Regions from separate parts of the Homo sapiens genome. Here region 2 is linked to region 1. The links come from fine-mapping of genetic effects on gene expression. A gene starts in region 1. The other region holds a variant in brackets. All regions are shown on one strand. Distances are between the middles of the regions.

Region 1 (8,000 bases):
TTCCATCACTCAACAAAATTATTCTCTGTCCTCCTCACCCTTTGATTGTCAGCGTATCCTCATTCTTCTTGGACTCCGGACAAGAGCTTGAGACCCACCAAGTGAGGGTACAAAGAAAGCTGTAACAGTGCTAGGGTTGAGCCAGCTCTGGAGCCACAGGCCAGAGCAGGTAACAGGGCTGACATCTTCCTGGACAGGGGTGTCACTGGCTGGGGGTCTCCGGCCGGCAGAATGACCAAGAAAAATCCTGTGTCACTATCATAAATCACCACAAACTGTGGGTTTAAAACAACACCTATATATTCTGGAGGTCAGAAGTTTGAAATCAGTTTGACTGGGCAGAAATGAGGGTCCACAGAGCTGTGCTTCCTCCAGAGGCTCTCAGGGAAGCTGCTCCCTGCCCTTCCCAGCTTCTCATGCTATCTTCCTTGCACCCCTTAGCCTGTGGCTCCTTCCTCCTTCAAAGGCAGTGGAGCATCAGCAAATCTCTTTCTCTGCTGAGGGCCTCACTCTCAGCCAAGGAGGGCAGGCTAGGCTGGGCACCATGGCTCACATCTGTAATCTGAGCACGTGGGGAGGCTGAGGTGGGAAGATCACTTGAGTCCAGGAGTTTGAGACCAGCCTGGGCAAGATGGTGAAACTCTGTCTCTACAAAATTGAAAATATTAGCCAGGCGTGGTGGTGGTATGCCTGTAATCTCAGCTAATCTGGAGGCTGAGGTGGGAGGATCACTTGAGCCCAGGAGTTTGAGACCAGCCTGGGCAAGATGGTGAAACCCTCTCTCTACAAAAATAAAAATATTAGCTGGGTGTGGTGGTGGTGCACCTGTAGTCTCAGCTAATCCAGAGGCTGAGGTGGGGAGTTTGAGGCTGCAGTGAACTATGATTGTGCCACTGCACTACAGCCTGGGCCACACAGTAAGACTCTGTCTCTAAAAAAAAATTAATTAATTAATTAATTAAATTTTAAAAAGGAGGTGAGCCTGACCTGGATGAGAGGCCGTTCCCCAAAATTCTTTGGGTGCTGGTTCAATGTCCTTCTTGCTCTCGCTCAATCTAGTTCAGGGAGGAGAAGGCAGGGCTGACCATGTGCAAGTCGCTGGAGACCCTCACAGCAGGCTTCAGATTCCACCATGCCCCTGCCTTCCTCAGGTAGAACAGTGAGGGTGGCTTCTGGGACAAGAGAGGATTCCACCCCATTGTCATTGTCTGGGATACATGCTTGGGCCTGACCTGGCATTGAGGATGGCCTGCCCACAGGGACAGCCAGTGTGAGACCAGGTCCAGGCTGCTGCAGCCATGATGCCTCCATGCACTACAGCTACTGGAGTCCCAGTAGGTGAGCCCCTCTGCCTAGAACGTGGGCCTGATTCTCAGCTGGACCCCTGGGCAGGATCATAGCTCTGGGTCCAACCCAGGGGTGACACTTGCCGGCTGGGTGACTGTGGGCAAGCCGCCTTCTCCTAGCTGGAAGTAGAATGTGGGATGACAGCAGCTGGGCCGATTGTCATGAAGCCTTTCTTGATGAGCAGTCCATGAAGCACTCTGCCCACGGCCCTCTACCCTCCACTGCAGCACTCACAGGCGGGGGCAGCAAACCTTTCCTTTATTGGAGAATGTGACACACAGTCCTGGGTGGGTTTGAGGTGAGCTTGAACTAAGGGAAGCCTCACCCCTGTCCTGCCCCTGTCCCAGTTAAGGGGCTCTCCCTAAAATGAACTATTCCTACTTCTCTTTATTTTTTAAAAAATTAAATCTAGCCAGGAATGGTGGTTTACACTTGTAATCCCAGCACTCTGGGGGGCCAAGGCGGGTGGATCACCTGAGGTCAGGAGTTCGAGACGAGCCTGGCCAATATGGTGAAACTAAAAATACAAAAATTAGCCGGGCATGGTGGCATACACCTGTAATCCCAGCTACTCGGGAGGCTGAGGCAGGAGAATTGCTTGAACCCGGGAGGCAGAGGTTGCAGTGGGCCAAGGTCGCACCACTGCACTCCAGCCTGGGTGACAGAGTGAGACTCTGTCTCAAAAAAAAAAAAAAATTAAATTTTTATTTAATCTTTTTTTCTCTTTGGCTTCTCAAAGTTCAACTTAAAAAGGTAGCTCCAGGGACCAGGCGCGGTGGCTTATGCCTATAATCCCAGCACTTTGGGAGGCCGAGGTGGGCTGATCACGAGGTCAAGAGATCGAGACCATTCTGACAAACATTGTGAAACCCCGTCTCTACTAAAAATACAAAAATTAGCTGGGCGTGGTGGCGTGTGCCTGTAGTCCCAGCTACTCAGGAGGCTGAGGCAGGAGAATCACTTGAACCCAGGATGTGGAGGTTGCAGTGAGCCAAGATTGCGCCATTGCACTCCAGCCTGGCGACAGGGCAAGACTCCGTCTCAAAAAAAAAAAAAAAAAGAGGTAGGTCCAGGCCGGGCATGGTGGCTCACACCTGTAATCCCAGCATTTTGGGAAGCCAAGGCAGGTGGATCACCTGAAGTCAGGAGTTTGAGACCAGCCAGGGCAACATGGTGAAACCTCGTCTCTACTAAAAATAAAAAAAATTAGCTGGGTGTGGTGGCAGGCACATGTAATCCCAGCTACTCAGGAGGCCGAGGCACAAGAATTGCTTGAACCCGGGAAGGAGAGGTTGCAGTGAGCTGAGATCATGCCACTGCACTCCAGCCTGGGCAACAGAGCAAGACTCTGTCTCAAAACAAACAAACAAACAAAGGTAGGTCTGCTCCAGGCCAAACTTTTTATTTATTTATTTTTTGAGACGGATTTTCGCTCTGTTGTCCAGGCTGGAGTGCAGTGGTGCAGTCTCAGCTCACTGCAACCTCTGCCTCGTGGGTTCAAGTGATTCTCCCACCTCAGCCTCCTGAGCAGCTGGGATTACAGGCACACGCCACCACGCCCGGCTTATTTTTGTATTTTTAGTAGAGACGGGTTTTCACCATGTTGGTCAGGCTGGTCTCAAACTCCTGACCTCGTGATCTGCCCGCCTCGGCCTCCCAAAGTGCTGGGATTACAGGCGTGAGCCACCAGGCCTGGCCTTTTTTTTTCTTTTTTTTGAGACAGGGTCTTGCTCTGTTGCTTAGGCTGGAGTGCAAGGGCACGATCTCTGCTCACTGCAACTTCTGCCTCCCAGTTCAAGTGATTCTCCTGCCTCAGCCTCCTGAGTAGCTGGGACTACAGGCGTGTACCACCACACCTGGCTAATTAAACATTTTATTTTTAATTAATTAATTAATTTTTTTTTTTTTAAAGACAGGGTCTCACTCTGTTGCCCAGGCTGTAGTGCAGTGGTGCAGTCATAGCTCACTATAGCCTCGAACTCCTGGGCCCAAGTGATCCTCCTGCCTTAGCCTCCCAAACAGCTGCAACTAAGGTGCATGCCACCAGGTCTGGCTAATTTTTTTTGTGCTTTCTGTAGAGACGGGGGTGGGGGGGGCTGAGTGGGCGGGGGTGGGAGTAGGGTGTCTCACTATGTTTCCCAGGCTGGTCTCCAACTCCTAGGCTCAAGCAATCCTCCCACCTCGGCCTCCCGTAGCGCTGGGATTACAGGTGGGAGCCACCCCGCCTAGCTAATGTTCCTGTTTCTCTTGTCCAGAGCTGGAGTCCAGCCTGATTCCCACCCACAGGTTGTAACCAATGAGCCCTAAGAGAAGCGCTGAAGACCAGGAAGGCCCAGATCCAGGGGTAGGGGTGTTGGGTCCTCTCCACTGGGGTGCAGGCAGAGAGGCAAAGAGGAAGGAGACCCTTCGTGACTCTCAGCGAGGCTGTGAAGAAGAATATCCGGAAGCCACAAGAGGTATATCCGGAAGCCACAAGAGGTGTGGAAACCCCGTTTCCAAGGCTGGGCCCAGTAGCTCGTGCCTGTAATCCCAGCATTTTGGTAGGCTGAGGCGGGTGGATGGCTCGAGCTCAGGAGTTCGAGAGCAGCCTGGGTAACATGGCGAAACCCCTCCCCCCCCCCCCCCCCCGTCTCCAAAAAATACAATAGCCAGCGTGGTGCAGCCGTCTGTAGTCCCAGCTACTCTGGAGGCTCAGGTGGGAGGATCGCTTCAGGCTGGGAGGCAGAGATCACCCCACTGCATTCCAGCCTGGAAGACAGGGCCAGGCCCTATCTCAAAAAATAACAAGGAAACCCCGTTTTCGATTTCGCCAACGCGGAGGGGCCGAAGCAGCAGATGGGCTTGGACGGTCTCCCGCCGCTCCTCCCGGACCTCCCTACTCCTGGGCTTTTCCAGGGGCAGCCCCGTGGTGGCCCCGCCCAGCGCCCGGGAGAGGGGCGAGGCCGGGGGCGGAATGGGCGGAGTTCGACTGTGAGGGAGGTGGAGGCGGGAGTCCGGTGGTGGGGGTGGAGTCTGGAGGTAGGGCGGGGCCAGAACAGCGGCGGGGGCGGAGTTCCGGCTGGGGGCGGGGCGGGGCGGAGCGGGAGCTGCGGGATTCCGGCTTCAGGGGCGGGGCACCGGCCTCTGGGCGGAGATCTGCTGCCGCGTTCTACCCTTCCGGCCCGTGTTCTATCCGCCGCCTCCACCTTCCATCCGGCGCCGGCTTTCGGCGCGACGGTCGCCGCGTTCCATCGTCGCGCGGCCCTTCGGGCGCCCGAGCCCGCAATGTCGGGCCCCAACGGAGACCTGGGGATGCCGGTGGAGGCGGGAGCGGAAGGCGAGGAGGACGGCTTCGGGGAAGCAGGTGACCCGAGGGGGCTGCTGGAGCAACCTTGCATTTTCAGGGCTGCCCTCCCGGGAAGGGGAATCGAGATGGGGTCTCGGAAGGGAACAAAGAGCCCACCCATTCCGCCCCGAGCGGGTCCGGAGTTGTAGGTGCTGTCTCGGATGCAGGGCGAGCACCCGCGAGCCGGTTCCCAGCCCCGTGAGAGCTGCAGGTCACCAGTCCCGTTTTACAGATGGGGAAACTAAGGCAGCTTCGGGGACACTCGCCCTTGTGGGCCTTGCTCCACCACTTCCTTCAGTCCTGGGGGAGACCGAGGCACCTGAGGGAGGCAGGGTTGAGCTTAGCGGAGGGGCCGGGCCGGGACGTGGAGTTGGGGACGCGGGGGCGTCGCTCTGCCGATTCAGCATCCCCAGCCACCCGGCTTTGCTGGTGTAGCCTCACAGCCTTGCCAAATGTCAGCAGCTTACAGAGCAGCCTTTTGCGTGCTTACGAGTGCAGGGGTGGGGTGTGAAGAGAACCATCGGCTCCCTTCTCACCTTCTTCAGCCTCAGTTTCCCCCTCTATAAAATAGGAATAACGATTAGTGTCTGCTGCACTGGGATGTGTCAGAATTAAATGCAAAAAAAAGGAAAATCCTTAGCAGGTTCTAGCATGCAAGAGTTCAGTAAATGGTTATCGTCATTATTATCTTTGGTATAGTAAAGATTGGCATGTTAACATACACTGAGGATTTAGTAAATGTGGTGTAAGTATGGTGCATGCTCTTTGTTTTGTTTGGCGTAACAGCTTTATTGAGCTATACAACTTACCCATACTGTACAGTTCAGTAGGCTTTTGTGTATTCCCAGGGTTGTACATCCATCACAATAGTTTCAGGTAGCTCTGCATTGGGCAATGCTGTTGGGAGCATCAGGAAGAGCTTCCCAGGAGGTCACATTAAGTGGATGTTGGCAGACAGGACTTAGAACAGTGGGGAGGAGGGTGGTGTCCCAGGCAGAAGCAAAGGCTTGGAACTGGGAAGTACCCTTGACACAGATAAAGCCTGGCCTGGAGGGGTGTGGGGCACCTGCCTCCCCAATTCCTCCTCCTAGCCTGTATCCCAGGACACAGAGTTCGAAATATTGATAATAATGACCATCCACTAAGTACTTGCTGTGGCCAGATCCTGTCTGAGCTTTTTTTTTTTTTTTGAGTCGGAGTCTTGCTCTGTTGCCCAGGCTGGAGTACAGTGGCGTGATCTTGGCTCACTGCAACCTCCGCCTTCTGGGTTCAAGCGATTCTCATGCCTCAGCCTCCCGAGTAGCTGGGACTACAGACGCCTGCCACCACGCCTGGCTAATTTTTATACATCTTTAGTAGAGACAATGTTTCACCACGTCGGCTAGGCTGGTCTCGAACTCCTGACCTCAGGTGATCCACCCGCCTTGGCTTCCCAAAGTACTGGGATTACAGGCGTGAGCCACCACACCGGCCACTGTCTGAACTCTTGATGTGTTTGAATCCTCACAACCTTTTTTATTTTCCCTTTTTTCCAGAAAGGTACAACTTGCTGGGGTAAAGCAGAGCTGAAATTCAAACCCAAGTGACCCTGACCCCCAAGTCCAATCCTGAGTTTCGGCTGTTACCAACCTGGAGGACCCTGGGCAGGTTCCTTCCTTCTGAGGCCTCGGTTTCCCTAGCTATATACCATGAGGGGGTTGGACTTTAAGATGCAGCCGATTTCCCAGGACGCTGTCGTCTGTGAGGGTGGCTGGCTCTAGGCAACGGGTGCCCTTTCCTAGAACACAGGCACATATGCACCCATAACCCAGATACGCTCCTCCAGCTCCTCCACCGGCTGCTTCCCCCTTGGTCTCAAGCTGGCAGCTGAGTGTATGTGAGTCATGGGCTGGCTCAGAACTGGGTCCCGCAGTGGGCACAGGCCCAGACCTTGAGTCCTCAGGGACACTGTGTTGCTGAGCAGGGCAGCTCTGGAGTGGCCGTGGAGGGGAGGGAGTGATGGTTTCTAGTGGAGACCAGGGAAGGCTTCTTGGAGGAGGCATTTTGAGCTGGTCCTTGAAGGGCTGTTGTGGTTGAGGCATTCTAGGTTGCAGGGATAGTTGAGCAATGGCGGAGAGGCTGGAAAGTCAGAGGCTTCATTCATTCACTCACTCAGTCATTCAACAAATGCTTATTGCAAAACTGTGAGGGCACCAGGGAGCCAGCAGCGAACACAGGACCGTTCATCTTTCATGGGGAAACATAACAGCACTCAGATAAGCACAGCAGTCAATCCTGGAGAGAAGGTCGTGGAGGGCTGAGGAGGGCTAGGGGCTCAGCATAGAGGCCTGATCCAGTCTGGGGCATTGGGTGGGCTCCCGGTGGTGACATCCATACTGAGACTTGAAGGATGAGTGGGACTCATCCAGGAGGAGAGAAGGGAAGGAAGATGGGAGGACCCAGCACCTTCCAGGCAGAGACAGCAGCATGTTCAAAGGGCCTGAGGTAGGTAAAGGCAGGTGTGAGAGAGGAAAGGAAGAGGCAGGGAGGCAGGGCTAGCTAGGAGGCAGGGGCTGGAGACTCCGCTGGGTGTTTTATCCTGAGGGAGCCACAGAAGGGCTGGCGAACAGGGCCCATCTGGGGACAGAGGCCTTGAATGCCCAACTCAGGAATGTGGGCTCTGGCCACTAAGCAGCTGCTGCAGGAAGTGCAGAGACTTGGCATCTGGCAGGACTTCCCATGTAGGACACTGGCTCGCCACCCTATGACCACCCTAACCCTAGAAAAAAGGATGCAGTACTAAAGTGTCATTCATTCAAAGCCACTCCTCTTTTGGTATTCCACCCATTTTCCAGACGGTGACACTGAGGCTCAGGAAGCAGTAGGGACTTGCACAAAGCCCTTTGGGAAGCAGGCTGGGAAACAGTGGAGGGAGGGTGTCCATTAGCCCCAAGGAGACACAGGATCTGGGCTCTGTCTTTCGCCTTCCTCCCAGAATACGCTGCCATCAACTCCATGCTGGACCAGATCAACTCCTGTCTGGACCACCTGGAGGAGAAGAATGACCACCTCCACGCCCGCCTCCAGGAGCTGCTGGAGTCCAACCGGCAGACACGCCTGGAGTTCCAGCAGCAGCTCGGGGAGGCCCCCAGTGATGCCAGCCCCTAGGCTCCAAGAGCCCCCAACCGGGACCCAACCCTGCCTCCCTGGGCTAGGCTCTGGCCTGGGCACTCACCCCCTGGCTTAGACACCTTCTCAAGGGCTGGCCTTCAGGGACCCCTGGTGGGTCTGCCTGCCTGGGCCACCCTTCCTGCCTGGGCCTCCCCTTGGCCTACCTGGGCCAGCCCCC
Region 2 (8,000 bases), 54 kb before region 1:
TGCGGGGCGGCTGCCAGGAAATCTCATGGAACAGCCCTGGGAGTTGCCGTCTGTCCTGGCTGGACCTTCCGGAAACCCTGCGGTCTGAACACTGGCTGGTCCTCGGGGACAGCAGCCCTGGGCTCAGCTGCTGTGGCGGGCTCGTCTCGTGCCGTGCTGTGCCCCTGTCTCTGGGTGTGTGCTTGCTTCACTAACATGGCTCCGAGCACTTATGCGTGTTGTTTCTGCTCTCTCCTCCGCATCCTTTGTCTGTCTGTCAGAATACGAACGGGCCATTTCTGGGGCCCTGTCACCTAGTAAGTATCCATGTCGCTCATGACTGCCTCCCTTGACTTCCATGCCTGATCAGAGCGGGATTCTTGTGGGCCATTATATTGCCATTGTTGTGCTAAGTGGGGTGTGGAGCCCCCTGCTCTTTCTCCTGGGGGCAGAGGCACCTCGTGTGGTTTCTGGGCATCCGAATGCCTGCCCTTGGCTCACTGGGAGGTGGGGGGATGCAGCTGGCGGATGGGCATGTGGGCACGTGGGCAGCCTCGCCTCTGTCTTGCAGCATGGATAAAAACGGCACGATGACCATTGACTGGAACGAGTGGAGAGACTACCACCTCCTCCACCCCGTGGAAAACATCCCCGAGATCATCCTCTACTGGAAGCATTCCACGGTGAGCCCCACGTGCCCAGGGCCCTCATCTGCTCCCAGGGACCCTTAGCCCAGAGTCACCCAGTCGTCCCCATCCCAGAGTGCAGCTGGGGCTTTCCAGCCACCTCCTCTTCCACAGGAGACTGTCCCCTCTTCTGCCAGCCCAGTAGAGCTGTCCGCATGTTCCCCATGTTCTGGCACTCCAGCCAACCTGAACAGCCCCATCGTTCACACACACAGGCTTCCTCTTCCAGGAACACCCTCCGTCCCCACATGCTCCCTGCTCCCTGCTCCTCATGGGCCACTTCAAATACCCCTTCCCATGATGCTGTCTGTTCTCCCAAAGCTGGTATGAGCCTTCCCCCCGGTGGGAGGGGGCTGGGGCAGAAGCTACTCTACAGAGAACACCTAGGCAGAGCTGTGAGGTGTCCCCACGGTCACACATTTGCTGCCCTCTCGCCCCCGTCCACTGTGGTTTCATGTTCAGAAATGTGAGTCTGTGCTGGTCTCTGCCCCGAGCCCTTCATGCTTGGCGTGTCCCTCTCTGAGTCCTGGTGTGCAGTCCTGTCCCTCTGGACCATCCGCTCCAGGAGGGGAGGCCAGAGGCGCTCCTCATCTGCCTCTCGCAGTGCCAGGCCAGGGCTTGTTAGGTGAGATTAAATGGACAGCTCCAGGGGTGGGAGTAGCTGGCCCAGAGCTCTGGCCTTTAGCCCTGGGATCAGAGCAGAGGTGGCTCTGATCAGCCCGGATGTCACCCGGAGAAAGGTTACGCAGGCAGCGAGCCCTCGTGTTTGCTGAGGCGTTGCATAATGTTCTGCCAGCGTGATCTGGTTACACGTGAGATCTCAGACGGCTCTCACCCCGGCCTGATCCCTTCAGCGCAGCCAGCCTGGCAATCTCACACAGGCCTGTGAGCTGTTCTTGCAGTAGCTCCCTGGCAGCATTGGAAAGGGCCGGTGAATGGTTTTCTAACCGGCACCTCCCGGCTGTGTTCAGCTGAGGTTCTATACCTGTGCCTCTCCAGGACCCCAGCAGGGGTGAGAGCTCTGCTACCTTCAGAGTGAAGGGAAAGACCCCAGCCCGCTTCCCACCCAGAGTCCTTGGCCTTCTCCCTGTCCTGTGGTCCCTGGCCTGGAGCCGTGCTAGAGGGTAGACGGCGACAGGTGCCAGCAGCCTTGCCCCAAGGGTCCTGAGTCAGGCTTGTGCCATCTTTCCTCACAGATCTTTGATGTGGGTGAGAATCTAACGGTCCCGGATGAGTTCACAGTGGAGGAGAGGCAGACGGGGATGTGGTGGAGACACCTGGTGGCAGGAGGTGGGGCAGGGGCCGTATCCAGAACCTGCACGGCCCCCCTGGACAGGCTCAAGGTGCTCATGCAGGTATGTAGGGAAAAGGCCCCAGACCCCTGGGGGGCCAGTTTCCACCTGGGGGATGCTGCTTGGCTAGTTTTCCCTTTCTCTGGCTGGTGCCTGCTTTGGGCCCAAACTTTTCTAACCCAATAAATTAGACTAGAATTATTGCTCAGACAGGGGGTACCAAAATGTCACTGTAGGTGACATTTTGTGCAGAGCGGATCTAATTTTATCTGAGGCATCACATTACAGGGGCATAATGTGGACAGGTGAAGCTAGCGAGACTGGGGTGAGGCAGGAACCAATTTCTGTAAGTACGTTTTGTGTACGTTACCCCACACTGGGGCCAGCAGAGCCTCACCTGACCCAGATGCCAATGGGAAGCCACGCCATTACCTTGGCCAGGTACGCAAATCCATGTCCACACAGCAGAGATAAGCTGGGCTGATGTCAAGGCAGAATTGTGAAACTGACCCACACAACGACACTGGTGGACTTTGATGTCTGAATGGTGACTGGCCACCACTTGTCCCCTTGCCCGTACCTAGTACTTCTTGTGCCAGGAGCCCGGCTTGGAAGAGCTGCCTCCTTTCTCTCCCCAGTCTGCCTTGCTGGGCCTCCCTGTGTTGCACAGAGACAAAGGAAGCAGGTGGTTCAGGGCAGAATGCCTCGGGCTTGGACTCTGCCCAGGGCACCACCACAGCTGCCTCCCTCCCTCTTGTGGCCTTGAGCAAACCCCTTTCCCTCCCAGGACTTCCCCTCCTCTGTGAAAATAGGGGCTTGAACAACTGCCTCATCCTTTTGTTTTTTTAGCAGAATTATCAGGAATGTTGTAGAGATTGAAAGCAGGCCTTGGGTGAAATCAAATGCCTGGCGTGTGCCTTTAAACCAGCATGGGTGGGGCAGCAGGAGAGAGAGGTTGGCTGTGGTTTGATCATTGTCTAAGCTGAGTGGGCATTCATTCTATTTTTTAATATGTCTTAAGTTTTTTTAATAATGAAAAACTTTGATTTTTAAAAATTATTATTATTATTATTATTATTATTATTATTATTATATTTTTTGAGACAGTCTCGCTCTGTCACCCAGGCTAGAGTACAGTGGTATGATCTCAGCTCACTGCAACCTCCCTCACTGGGTTCAAGCAATTCTACAGCCTCAGCCTCCCTAGTAGCTGGGATTATTACAGGCATGCGCTATCACCCCAGGCTAATTTTTGTATTTTTAGTAGAGACGAGGTTTCATCATGTTGGCCAGGCTGGTCTCACACTCCTCACCTCATGTGATCTGCCCACCTCGGCCTCCCAAAGTGCTGGGATTACAGATGTGAGCCAACACTCCCGGCCTTTTTTTTTTTTTTTTTTTTTTTTTTTTCTAAAATAGAGTCTCGCTCTGTCGCCCAGGCTGGAGTACAGGGGCGCGATCTTGGCTCACTGCAACCTCCACCTCCCGGATTCAAGCGATTCTCCTGCCTTAGCCTCCCAAGTAGCTGGGATTACTGGTGCCTGCCACCACGCCCGGCTAACTTTTGTATTTTTAGTAGAGACGGGGTTTCACCATGTTGGCTGGGCTGGTCTCGAACTCCTGAACTCAAGTGATCCACCTGCCTCAGCCTCCCAAAGTGCTGGGATTACAGGCATGAGCCAC[C/T]GCGCCCAGCCTTGATTTTTTTTTTAAGTCATCTTTATGGAGATGTTCAGGACAAGGCTGGCAACCAGCAGATACCCAGTACGATGGAGCTGAGCCTCACTTAGCCGTGTTGGGTTACTTTGGGCTCATGATTCCAAGCTTGTCTTCAAAATGCACGGAAGAAAGGGCCTTCCCTTTGGCCGCAGCCGGTTGGCCAGCAGAGGCTCTTGGCCGGGTGAGGCAGCCTGTGGCCCCCCGGGTCCGTCTGACTGTTCGGTCCTCCCTCCCAGGTCCATGCCTCCCGCAGCAACAACATGGGCATCGTTGGTGGCTTCACTCAGATGATTCGAGAAGGAGGGGCCAGGTCACTCTGGCGGGGCAATGGCATCAACGTCCTCAAAATTGCCCCCGAATCAGCCATCAAATTCATGGCCTATGAGCAGGTGAGGACCCAGCTCCTCAGGAGGGTCACCGGCCAGTGGCTACTCACTGCCTGGACTTGCTGGCTTTCCCTGGGCTGAGCTCCCTGACACTTGGAGCCAGCCGTGGTACCCCAGGGACAGCAGGGCGAGGCAGGAGGCCCAGGCTCACCACGAGTTCCTTACATTTCTGGGTAGCATAAAATGTGCCGGGGACTCCTGGAAGGGAGGGGCAGCAGCAGGTGCCCCAACCTCTGGGTATATCAGGTGGTTTGTTTGTTCCTGGTTCTAGATCAAGCGCCTTGTTGGTAGTGACCAGGAGACTCTGAGGATTCACGAGAGGCTTGTGGCAGGGTCCTTGGCAGGGGCCATCGCCCAGAGCAGCATCTACCCAATGGAGGTGAGGGGCCGCCTGGGTCCTGGGGCGGGCAGTGGGCACAGGACTGGGGAGAGGCACAGGCTGTGCTCACGCGTCCCGCTGCTCCTGTTGTGCAGGTCCTGAAGACCCGGATGGCGCTGCGGAAGACAGGCCAGTACTCAGGAATGCTGGACTGCGCCAGGAGGATCCTGGCCAGAGAGGGGGTGGCCGCCTTCTACAAAGGCTATGTCCCCAACATGCTGGGCATCATCCCCTATGCCGGCATCGACCTTGCAGTCTACGAGGTGAGGCCCAAGCTGGACAGATTTAGAAACCTCCTCCCAGCACACCTCCACCTGCTGTCTCCCTCCTTGACGGACGCGTGGTTAGTGCAGGAAACTGCATCAAAGACTGCGCCTCCTTCCTGCTCTTCTGTTTACTGCAGCTTTCCTTCACCCTGCCTGCCCCTGGCAGACCCCAGCAGCTCCTGTGAGCCCTGCACCCAGGCTCTGCATCCCCAGAGGCTCAGCAGGCAGATCCCCAGAGCAGGGTGGCCCCCAGGAGCTCACAGGCCCCAGCACACTCTAGACAGACCCCAGAAGTCAGCCCTTCTGTGTGGGGAAGGAGGTGTTCCCTCTACCTTGTCCCGGAATTCCCAGTGACAGCAGAAACAGGGCAGCCAGGCTAGGAGCCCAGCCAGGCCCCAGGCGCGGCAGTCGGGTTCCAGTGGCCTGAGGACCCAGTAACAGCCCCGTCTCTTGCTGCCTCACTAGCCCTTCCTAGGGCTTATCCCATGCTCCCTTCTCCTTCTAGACGCTCAAGAATGCCTGGCTGCAGCACTATGCAGTGAACAGCGCGGACCCCGGCGTGTTTGTGCTCCTGGCCTGTGGCACCATGTCCAGTACCTGTGGCCAGCTGGCCAGCTACCCCCTGGCCCTAGTCAGGACCCGGATGCAGGCGCAAGGTAAGGCTGGCCCTGGACAGTCCCCTGGGAGGTCGGGGGGAGCGGACAGAAGCATCTGACTGGTGGCCTCCATCCTGCAGCCTCTATTGAGGGCGCTCCGGAGGTGACCATGAGCAGCCTCTTCAAACATATCCTGCGGACCGAGGGGGCCTTCGGGCTGTACAGGGGGCTGGCCCCCAACTTCATGAAGGTCATCCCAGCTGTGAGCATCAGCTACGTGGTCTACGAGAACCTGAAGATCACCCTGGGCGTGCAGTCGCGGTGACGGGGGGAGGGCCGCCCGGCAGTGGACTCGCTGATCCTGGGCCGCAGCCTGGGGTGTGCAGCCATCTCATTCTGTGAATGTGCCAACACTAAGCTGTCTCGAGCCAAGCTGTGAAAACCCTAGACGCACCCGCAGGGAGGGTGGGGAGAGCTGGCAGGCCCAGGGCTTGTCCTGCTGACCCCAGCAGACCCTCCTGTTGGTTCCAGCGAAGACCACAGGCATTCCTTAGGGTCCAGGGTCAGCAGGCTCCGGGCTCACATGTGTAAGGACAGGACATTTTCTGCAGTGCCTGCCAATAGCGAGCTTGGAGCCTGGAGGCCGGCTTAGTTCTTCCATTTCACCCTTGCAGCCAGCTGTTGGCCACGGCCCCTGCCCTCTGGTCTGCCGTGCATCTCCCTGTGCCCTCTTGCTGCCTGCCTGTCTGCTGAGGTAAGGTGGGAGGAGGGCTACAGCCCACATCCCACCCCCTCGTCCAATCCCATAATCCATGATGAAAGGTGAGGTCACGTGGCCTCCCAGGCCTGACTTCCCAACCTACAGCATTGACGCCAACTTGGCTGTGAAGGAAGAGGAAAGGATCTGGCCTTGTGGTCACTGGCATCTGAGCCCTGCTGATGGCTGGGGCTCTCGGGCATGCTTGGGAGTGCAGGGGGCTCGGGCTGCCTGGCCTGGCTGCACAGAAGGCAAGTGCTGGGGCTCATGGTGCTCTGAGCTGGCCTGGACCCTGTCAGGATGGGCCCCACCTCAGAACCAAACTCACTGTCCCCACTGTGGCATGAGGGCAGTGGAGCACCATGTTTGAGGGCGAAGGGCAGAGCGTTTGTGTGTTCTGGGGAGGGAAGGAAAAGGTGTTGGAGGCCTTAATTATGGACTGTTGGGAAAAGGGTTTTGTCCAGAAGGACAAGCCGGACAAATGAGCGACTTCTGTGCTTCCAGAGGAAGACGAGGGAGCAGGAGCTTGGCTGACTGCTCAGAGTCTGTTCTGACGCCCTGGGGGTTCCTGTCCAACCCCAGCAGGGGCGCAGCGGGACCAGCCCCACATTCCACTTGTGTCACTGCTTGGAACCTATTTATTTTGTATTTATTTGAACAGAGTTATGTCCTAACTATTTTTATAGATTTGTTTAATTAATAGCTTGTCATTTTCAAGTTCATTTTTTATTCATATTTATGTTCATGGTTGATTGTACCTTCCCAAGCCCGCCCAGTGGGATGGGAGGAGGAGGAGAAGGGGGGCCTTGGGCCGCTGCAGTCACATCTGTCCAGAGAAATTCCTTTTGGGACTGGAGGCAGAAAAGCGGCCAGAAGGCAGCAGCCCTGGCTCCTTTCCTTTGGCAGGTTGGGGAAGGGCTTGCCCCCAGCCTTAGGATTTCAGGGTTTGACTGGGGGCGTGGAGAGAGAGGGAGGAACCTCAATAACCTTGAAGGTGGAATCCAGTTATTTCCTGCGCTGCGAGGGTTTCTTTATTTCACTCTTTTCTGAATGTCAAGGCAGTGAGGTGCCTCTCACTGTGAATTTGTGGTGGGCGGGGGCTGGAGGAGAGGGTGGGGGACTGGCTCCGTCCCTCCCAGCCTTCTGCTGCCCTTGCTTAACAATGCCGGCCAACTGGCGACCTCACGGTTGCACTTCCATTCCACCAGAATGACCTGATGAGGAAATCTTCAATAGGATGCAAAGATCAATGCAAAAATTGTTATATATGAACATATAACTGGAGTCGTCAAAAAGCAAATTAAGAAAGAATTGGACGTTAGAAGTTGTCATTTAAAGCAGCCTTCTAATAAAGTTGTTTCAAAGCTGATCATGGAGCCAGTATTTTTCTGACGGGGGCCTGGGTGGTCTGGGGGTGCTGACATGTTAGAAAATGCGCCCTGTTTTCCCCTCTGGAGCCTGGTGGTGCCCCCTTTCGGCTTCTTAGAGGCGCTCCCTCTTTAATGGTTGCGTGTTCGATTTGGGGTGCCCTGAGTTGCTGTGTAGGGTCGTTCCTCAGCCTGTCTCAGGCAGGGTGCGGGGGATCTCTCCCTCCGCCGGAAGTGCCATCTTCACAGACACCGAGGACGTCGCTGGGCTTCTCTCCCCTCCCCCCAGCTGCCCCTCCCAGCCTCACCCCGCTCCTGCCTCCTCACACCCTCTCAGTAACCTCATCTGACTGAGGATTACCTTCAATATCTATATTTAGATGACACTCCTTTGATACTTGAACGAATTCCAGCTTCATCAGTACAACTGTGAAATCCACATCCACTTAAACAGCACCTCGAGTTCAGCATGTCAGAAGCCGAACCCTTCATTTTCCTCCCAAAATCTGCTTCTTCATTTTCCTCATGCCAGCAAATGGCAACTCCTTTCTTCTACGAACTTAAGCCAAACACCTT

What was found.
Region 2: its variant is fine-mapped to the expression of BBLN in fibroblasts (GTEx, PIP above 0.99).

The regions. Positions count from the first base shown.
Region 1 is chr9:128,155,797-128,163,796 of GRCh38, forward strand. BBLN (bublin coiled coil protein) reads left to right here and starts at 4,469. Exons shown (of 2, transcript NM_024112.4): 1 at 4,469-4,690; 2 at 7,647-8,000. The coding sequence starts at 4,612. The coding sequence ends at 7,819. RefSeq lists silencers at 520-720, 1,994-2,189, 4,209-4,418, 4,629-4,718 and enhancers at 3,370-4,323, 4,324-5,277.
Region 2 is chr9:128,101,820-128,109,819 of GRCh38, forward strand. It overlaps SLC25A25 (solute carrier family 25 member 25), which reads left to right. Exons shown (of 11, transcript NM_001330988.2): 4 at 261-296; 5 at 551-662; 6 at 1,862-2,020; 7 at 3,910-4,062; 8 at 4,331-4,438; 9 at 4,534-4,701; 10 at 5,210-5,360; 11 at 5,441-7,426. The coding sequence ends at 5,625. Among named protein-coding and RNA genes, the nearest start is that of SLC25A25-AS1, 13 kb to the right of the region's middle. The variant C/T (reference allele first, on the strand shown) is at 3,641.